3 separate regions of the Homo sapiens genome follow, and all the other regions are linked to region 1. Evidence: fine-mapped expression QTL. Tissue or cell type: whole blood. Region 1 holds a variant in brackets; each other region holds the start of a gene. All regions are shown on one strand. Distances are from middle to middle.

Region 1 (2,755 bases):
ATTGAGGTGACTTTTACAATTTTTTTTTTCTTTAAATGAGACACCTGTCACCCAGCCTGGAGTGCAGTGGTGTGATCATGGCTCCCTGAAACCTCAAGCTCCTGGGCTCAAGTGATCCTCCTGCCTCAGCCTCCCAAGTAGCTGGGACCACAAATGTGCACCACCATGCCTGGCAACTTTTCAAATTTGTTTTATTTTTTGTAGAGACAGGGTCTCCCTATGTTGTTCAGGCTGGTCTTGAACTTCTGGGCTCAGGGGACCCTCCTGTTTCGGCCTCCCAAAATGTAGTGTTGGCACAAACCTTTATTGAAGTATAATTTATATTACAGAAAGGGGTGCCTAAGTGGTTCACTAAATTTTTCACAAACTGAGTGTATCTATTTAAGCCTCACCAGACTGAGCAACCAACATTATCAGCACTGAGCAGCCCCCTCATGCCCGCTTCTGGTCCATGCCCATACCCACCCCCACCCCAGGCTGACAGCATACTGACATCTAACCATATGGACTGGAGTTTCTTGTTTCTGTGCTCTGTATAAAGAGAGGACACACGGGATGTGTACCTACGGTGTGTCATCTCTTGTCTCTGGCCTCACCGGCTTGATGTTACCTTGGGAGGTGTCACTGTTGCTGTGTCACTGTAGATCATTCCCATGGCTGTGTTGTATTGGCTGGGACTGTTTTTATCGAAGGGAGCTTGGACACTCTGCATGCCCCAGTGTGCTCAGGGAGAGCACACGTTGGATGGAAAGTTGGCCGGGTGAGGTGGCTCACGCCTGTAATCCCAGCACTTTGGGAGGCCAAGGTGGGCAGATCACTTGAGGTCAGGAATTCGAGACCAGCCTGGCCAACATAGTGAAACCTCATCTCTACTAAAAATACAAAAATTAGCCAGGTGCTGTGGTGCACCCCTGTAATCCCACCTACTCGGGAGGCTGAGGCAGGAGAATCGCTCGAATCTGGGAGGTGGAGGTTGCAGCAAGCCAAGATCGTGCCACTGCACTCCAGCCTGGGCAACAGAGCGAGACCCTATCTCAAAAAAGAAGAAAAAGGAGAAAGCTAATGTTAATTTTTTAGACAAGCAGTTGAGGACACTCATTTCCGGAAGGGTGAGTATCTGCTGAGTGTTGGGCACTCCCAGGCTTCTTTCTCCTCCCAGC[C/G]CCTGAAACAGGGGCCAGGGAGAGTTGGAAGGAAATCCCATGTGATTAAGCCGCAGCAACGTTGAGTGTCCTAAAGCAGGGACCCACAGGCCCCACGCTAGGAGCATGGCCCTGAGGTTAGCCTGCCTGGCAGCACTGTCCGCTCCCATGCCTCTTAGCTGTGTGAGCTGGGCTTTTCACTTGCTCTCTCTGAGTCCAGCTGCCCCTGCGGTAAGACATGAGGATGGCTCTGGTCTGATGGGTTGTGGTGAGGGTGACATGAGGTGAGCTGTGTGCATGCTGGGCACACTGGCGAGGGGCTCTCAGTAATGGGAGGCTGCTGTTGCAGGGCCCGGGCTGTGATGGGGAAAGGGTTGATTGTCCTGCGTTTCTCAGTTGACCAGCGGCATCCGAGGGCCTGAACAGCGAGTGACTCAGGGACTGCCCTTACGTGTCAGAGTTAGAAGTCATGGGAGAATGGAGGCTGCTCTCTCTGGGTTTCCCTGTCCTGTTAGGAGGGGTGAGGTTGCACAGGAAATCTATGGGGAAAAGGTGACAAGTGAACTGGAAGTAGCCGTTCCAAAGTTCCTAGGATTTGCACTGCCAAACAATGAGCTTTAAGGGACGCTTGGAAACATCTGGGGAGAAGGAAGGCCGGGACACTGCGCCCTGCCATCACCAACCCCTAACCTCAGTCCTCTGAGCGGCTCCACTGTCCCTGTGCCAGGTGACTTCATGTGCGTCCTCATTAAAGCAAAGTGCCTGACATTTCCATTGTCCAGTCAATGATGTCCTCGGTTGCTGACTATTGATGGCCTCTAACCCCTTGGTAAGGGTAACTGCAGCCTAGGAAAGGGTGATCTGATCTTTCTCTTTTTTAAACAGAGACGGGGTTTTGCTATGTTGTCCAGGCTAGTCTCAACCTCCTGGGCTCAAGCGATCCTCCTACCTTGGCCACCCAAAGTATTGGGATTACAGTCGTGAGCCACCGAGGCCTGCCAGTCTTTTTCTTTTGTGGCTGATGTTGGACAGGGACACCAGTAGAAAGGTCACTGCAGATTTCTTCCCAAGAGCAAGGCTCTTCGGTCAACCCCCTTTCCCACTTTCCCAGCGGATGTGAACTTCGTGCTCACCAAAGCAAGAGGTTTCAAGGTAGCAGCCCATGGGGTTGTATCTGATTGGCAGAAATGTGTGGTTTGCCCTGAATTGTTTTAAGATGTTTTCATGTTGTGACAATTGGGTAAACTTCTGGAAAAAATAGAGCTCCATACCTCACTCAGCACACCTGGATTGTAAATCGATTAGGAGCTTAATGTATAAAATGAATCTATTGGCCGGGTGCAGTGGCTCACACCTGAATCCTACCACTTTGGGAGGCCAAGGTGGGTGGATCGCTTGAGCTCAGGAGTTCAAGACCAGCATGGGCAACATAGCAAAACCCCTTCTCTGTAAAAAATAGAAAAATTAGCCAGGCATGGTGGTGCTTGCCTATAGACCCAGCTACTTGGTGGGAGGTGGGAAGATTGCTCGAGCCAGGGAACTTGAGGCTGCAGTGAGCTGAGATTGTGCCACTGCACTCCAGCCTGGGTGACAAAGTGTTACCCTGTCTTAGAAAG
Region 2 (2,607 bases), 52 kb after region 1:
CTGGATTTCCATTTTCTACCACCTTACTGCAAAGTTGGGGCTCAGAATGTTCGAAAGAGGTGCTGACCAGGCAGCTGAGATTGGGGAAAAGGGATGGTGGTGAACTGTGGTCAGGATAAGAGGAAAGCTGGCAGGTTGGGGAAGAAGGATTGCACAGGGGAGGCAAAGACTCACTCCATGCCATGCATGCTCCCCGCCCCCCCCAACCCCGTCCCCCCTCCCCCAGGTAAGGGTGGGCAGACCTGGCAGAAGGCTGGTTCAAGGCATGGGGGTGTGCGTGGGGGGGCTCCTTTTGGGGGTGGGGGGCGGACGGGATTAGTTCCAGGATGGGAGAAGCTCGGTTCTGGCTGGGGGAGATGCCCTTAGCTGCAAAAGCTCCGGGCGGCCAGGCAGAGTGCTGGCCTCGGTGGGCTCACAGGGCGGAGAAGGGGGTCGGGCTGCAGGAGGAGGCGCCTGGACCTCCGGAGCAGAGTCGGGTAGCGGTCCGTGCCGGGACGGGGGACCCGTCGGCGCCGGGGTGTGCAAAGGAGCGTGTGTGCGGCTGGAGGGCGGCGATGCGAACAACAATGCGCCCGCGCCCGGGGCCAGGCTGCACTGGCGGCCGCGCGGGCCGGGGTCGGGAAGCCAGGCAGGGCAGGGCCGCGGGTCCGCGCGCGGCGGCGCCGGGCTTACCTTGACTCGGCCTCGAGGCGCGCGCGGGGCCGGCGTGCTCGGGGGCCGGACAGCGGCGGCGGCGGCGGGCGGATGGCGGCGGCACGGCGGTGGCGGCAGCGGGGAGGGCGCGCCCGGGGCCTCGTCGCGCTCCGGCTCGGCGGACTCCGGCTCGCGCCGCGGCCGCGGGTGCTGCCGGGGGGCGCGGCGGGCGCAGCAGAGCGGCGGGCGGCGGCGGCGTCGTCGAGCGGTGCAGACAAAGGAGGGGCGGAGGGAGGAGACGGAGGGTGTGGGAGAGGCGGCTTCACCGGCGCGGGCGGCGGCGGCCGCGCTCCTCTCGCTCCTCAGCAGCGGGGACCGAGAGAGGGAGCTGTGTCTGAGAAGACGCCAAAATCCCCCTTAGCGCTGCCTGCGGGAGGGGGAGGGGGCACAAGATGGCGGCGGCCGGGGGGGGGGGGGCGGGAGTTCAGCTCATGGATCCCGGCGGGCGGCGGAGGGGAGACCGGGCCGGCGGAGGCGGCGGCGGCAACGGGCGGGGGAGGGGGCTGATCCCGCGTCTCCCCTCAGCAGACAATACAAGCGCCTCGGACCGAGTCCCCGAACCTGCCCTAGCCAAAATGGCGGCCGAGAAAGAGCGGAAGTGACGTAAGTGCCTCATTAGCATAAGAGGACTCATTGTCCAGCTAAATAGGGGGGGGCAGTGGGGACAGCACCCCTAACCCCCTTTTCCCCAGGGGGGGTTCCTCTTACTCCCACCCCTGCTTGCACCTAACTTTTCCTGAGGGAGGGTGCTCTCAGCACCCCCACCCCCGCTTGAGGGAAATTATATAATCCCCACTGAGGGGGGAGCTCTCGCGAGAACCAGGCGGATTTGCCATTGACCCACTAGGAGGCGCCGCGGATAATGGCCGCAGTGCGCTCCCGGGGCCCGTGTGCTCGGCGGGCGCCTTCCTCTGGCCGCAGCGCCGGCGGCGGAGGCAGAAGCAGCGGGCCGCAGCACGCCCAGCACTCAGTCAGGTGGCCGTGCTGGGGATCCCTGCGCGGGCCCAGCTGGGCCTGGACTACATCTGGCGGGAGGGGTGTGCGGGGCGGCCTGGGGCGGCTCCACGTGCTCAGATGCCCGCGCTTCCACGGCTGAGAAGCGGCGGGAAGGCGCCGGGACACCTGGCCGGTCGCCCCTGACGCCTCCTGCCTTAAATGAGGTGTGAGGGCCTCGTGCTTCACACAGCGACTTGAGATGAGACACAACCCCATGGATGCCTTAGCCCTTCCTGGTGGGGTATTCGGTGCAGAGGGGCCGAGATTTTATTAAGGTCCGCCGTTACCCTGTGACTTGACATTCTTCCCAGTCACAGTGATGGACTCTTCTCTGACCTGAATAAAAAAAAAAATGGGAATCCTAGTGCCTTGAGGCCACCCAACTGGTGAAACTTAAGGATGAGAAGTGATGTTGCCAATAGGGGCATTGGCTCTCTGCAAGATCCTTAAACAACACACTTTGTAGTCCTAGGGACATAGCTTTTGGTGCTCCCACAATCTGGGTAGCATAAGACAGCACATGGTTGCTTTGTAAATTTAGGTCAATCCCAACCAATACATTATCTCCTCAACATTTTTGAACCAACCTTTTAAAGTAGGTTGTTCAAAGTAACATTATGATTTAAAGTATCATTGGTTGGTTAAATGTATTGACAAGTAATAGATGTCAATAGTGAGGAATTAACCAAGCCTGTTTCCTTAATATGTGATCTTTAGGTAAATACACCTGTCTTTTGCTGTTTCTTTACATTTCAAGTTAACATAGTTTCAAGCCATACTTAACATCCGAAAATAATCTGAGTTCGCTGCAAGTAGTATAAATTGTGGTTACACATAGCTGTTCAACATCTAAGACTTCAGTTAGCCCTGTTTAACAAACTTTTATACAACACATTTCTGCAATTGTGATAAAATGTA
Region 3 (2,607 bases), 85 kb before region 1:
AGGTGTGGGACGTCCTATATATTTATTTGCACCCTTGATACCAGCCCCTCCTTTTTAAAAAACAACAACAACAACAAAAGACAGAGTTTCACTGTGTCACACAGGCTGGAGTGCAGTGGTGCGATCATAACTCGCGGTAGCCTTGAACTCCTGGCCTCAAACAATCCTCCTGCATCTGCCTCTCCAGTAGCTAGGACTACAGTTGTGCCCCACCACATCCTGCAATTTTAATTTTTTTTTTTCTTTTAGAGAGATGGAGTCTCCTTATGTTTGCCCAAGCAGCTCAGCCTTTTTTTTTTTTTTTTTTTGTGAGGCGATTTAACATTTAAAGAAAAGTCAGCAGGCAGGGGGCGCTGGCCCACGCCTGTAATCCTAGCACTTTGGGAGGCCGAGGCAGGTGGCTCACCTGAGGTCAGGAGTTCGAGAGCAGCCTGGCCAACATGGCGAAACCCCGTCTCTACTAAAAAATACAAAAATTAGAATTAGTCGGGCGTGGTGACAGGCGCCTGTAATCCCAGCTACTCGGGAGGCTGAGGGAGGGGGAGAATTGCTTGAACCCGGAATGTGGAAGTTACAGTGAGCCGAAATCGCACCACTGCACTCCAGCCTGGGCGACAGAGCGAGACTCCGTCTCCAAAAAAAAAAAATTAATTAATTAAAAATAAAAATAAGTCATCAAACGAAAAATCAAAACTTCAGACTTGTCTTATACCTATTTGCCTTTTAGTACTTTCCTCATTAGCACTGTTGGGGTGGGAGATGAGGCGCACCTCGCTCTCTTCAGCCCCAAGGCTTGTAAAGGGTCTATCTAGGCCGGCCTCCGAGGGCATGGAGGGAGTGGGTGCGGTTGTGAAATGTAGTGCGCTCAATAGTTTCCTGGTGAAGTTTATTTTAAAATCCGCACCGAAGAGGAAGACGAGGACCGTCACACTCGGCCTTCCCTAAATTCCAGGACCCTCCGCCCGATGCAAACTAGATGCTTTAGTAGGATGGGAACGGGTGGGGGGCGGGCGGCTTTGGGCTTCCTCTAAGCTAGCGCCTCTCTAACCCGGACGCCCGTTAGAATCACCCGGGGAGTTTTAGAAACTACCGATGCCCAAGCCCCACTCCGAAGGATTCCAACTTAATCGGCCTGGTGCGAGGCCTGGCTTCCGGGCTTTTAAAAGCTTCCCGGGGATTCTATTTTACGGCCGGGTCCGGGGCCGGGAGCCTGTACTCTACCGGGATTCCGATGGGGAGGGGTGGCTTGCCCCAATAGTTCTCAAATTTAGCTTTGGGTCAACAATCTGGTTGGAACCACCTAACAAACATCAAAAGATCCTGATGCCCAGGTCTTAACCCAGAGACGGTGTGGTCCAGGCTTGGGAAATTCTAAAAGAGCTCCAGGTGACTGCCATCTGCAAGCGAGTTTGCAAAGCACTGATGCCCAGGTGCTGCGGGGGCGGGCGCAGCGCGCGCCGCTCGCCACTGGGTGGCGCTGCCCGCTCGGCCCGGCGCTCCTGGAGCTGCGAGCCGCGACCGCCGGGAGCGCACCTGCCCCGCCTCCGCCAGGCGGTCCGCGGGGCATGCAGCGGACCGGGGGCGGGGCTCCGAGGCCCGGGCGCAACCACGGGCTCCCAGGCAGCCTCCGCCAGCCGGACCCCGTCGCCCTCCTGATGCTGCTCGTGGACGCTGATCAGCCGGAGCCCATGCGCAGCGGGGCGCGCGAGCTCGCGCTCTTCCTGACCCCCGAGCCTGGGGCCGAGGTAGGGGACGGGGCTGTGGAGTTGGAGGAGAGGGTTCTCGCGGTTAGGGGTCCGGGCTCCGGACCCTCGGCTTCCCCGGAGCATCCTCTCGCTCCCGGAGTGGGGGGCCCGGGGATTCCCCCCTTCCTGAAGGGTGGCTGCGGGGCGCCACGCAGAGATGTGCAGCGGGTCGTCCCTGCTCGCTCCTCCGGGCGACACCGGGCCCCGGAGGCCCAGGCTCGCTTTCCCTCCCCACCCGGGTCCCCCAGCATCCGCCGGGTCCTCAGGCGCCGCCCTTTGCCAGGCCGGCCCTGGGAGAGGCGGACCCCGGGACCTCTGCTGCCCCGGCTACCTCCGAGCGGTGCCCGGGCCGAGCGGCGCCTCAGGCTGCGGCTGTGCGGGCCGCGCTGCGCTGCTGCAGCTCGGAGCGAAAACACCACGCCTCTGTCTGCGCTTTCTATTTTAAAAGCACCAAGTGAAAAGCAGATCTAAAACGAGACCCTCTACCTTCCGGCTGGAGGCATCTGTCGACGCTGTTGTGAAAAAGTTATTTGTCTGAGTTCACTAGGAGTTATTTACGGTCAGAAATTCAACCCATTCTCTTTTTAAACCACAAAAGCAGTACAGGAGTATTTAACATAAAGGCTATGCACCCCTTTCTCTTTTCTCTCCCACCCCAATTCTAGTTTTCTTAGAAAACCAGCATTAACTGTTTGGTATAAATCATTCCGGACATTTAAAATGCATTTACAAATGTAGATATCTGTATCTGCCTAGGCAGAGTATTGGCTCATGCCAGTGGTCCCAGCATTCTGGGAGGCTGAGGCAGGAGGATTGCTTGGGATGGGGATAGGGGACGGGGAAGAGTGAGGCTGCAGTGAGG

What was found. PIP is the estimated chance that this variant, and not a neighbour inherited with it, causes the effect.
Region 2: ADNP starts here. The variant in region 1 is fine-mapped to the expression of ADNP in whole blood (TOPMed, PIP above 0.99).
Region 3: BCAS4 starts here. The variant in region 1 is fine-mapped to the expression of BCAS4 in whole blood (INTERVAL, PIP 0.91).

Annotation. Positions count from the first base shown.
Region 1 is chr20:50,878,481-50,881,235 of GRCh38, forward strand. It overlaps a transcript of BCAS4 not described here. Among named protein-coding and RNA genes, the nearest start is that of ADNP-AS1, 51 kb to the right of the region's middle. RefSeq lists enhancers at 900-1,401, 1,402-1,901. The variant C/G (reference allele first, on the strand shown) is at 1,161.
Region 2 is chr20:50,930,154-50,932,760 of GRCh38, forward strand. ADNP (activity dependent neuroprotector homeobox) reads right to left here and starts at 1,284. Exons shown (of 6, transcript NM_001282531.3): 1 at 673-1,284. ADNP-AS1 (ADNP antisense RNA 1) reads left to right here and starts at 831. Exons shown (of 3, transcript NR_110009.1): 1 at 831-901; 2 at 1,222-1,296. RefSeq lists enhancers at 113-903, 1,323-1,442 and silencers at 503-682, 823-872, 1,023-1,242, 1,542-1,729, 1,593-1,772.
Region 3 is chr20:50,793,429-50,796,035 of GRCh38, forward strand. It overlaps BCAS4 (breast carcinoma amplified sequence 4), which reads left to right and starts at 1,633. Exons shown (of 5, transcript NM_198799.4): 1 at 1,633-1,745. The coding sequence starts at 1,656. RefSeq lists a silencer at 1,366-2,185.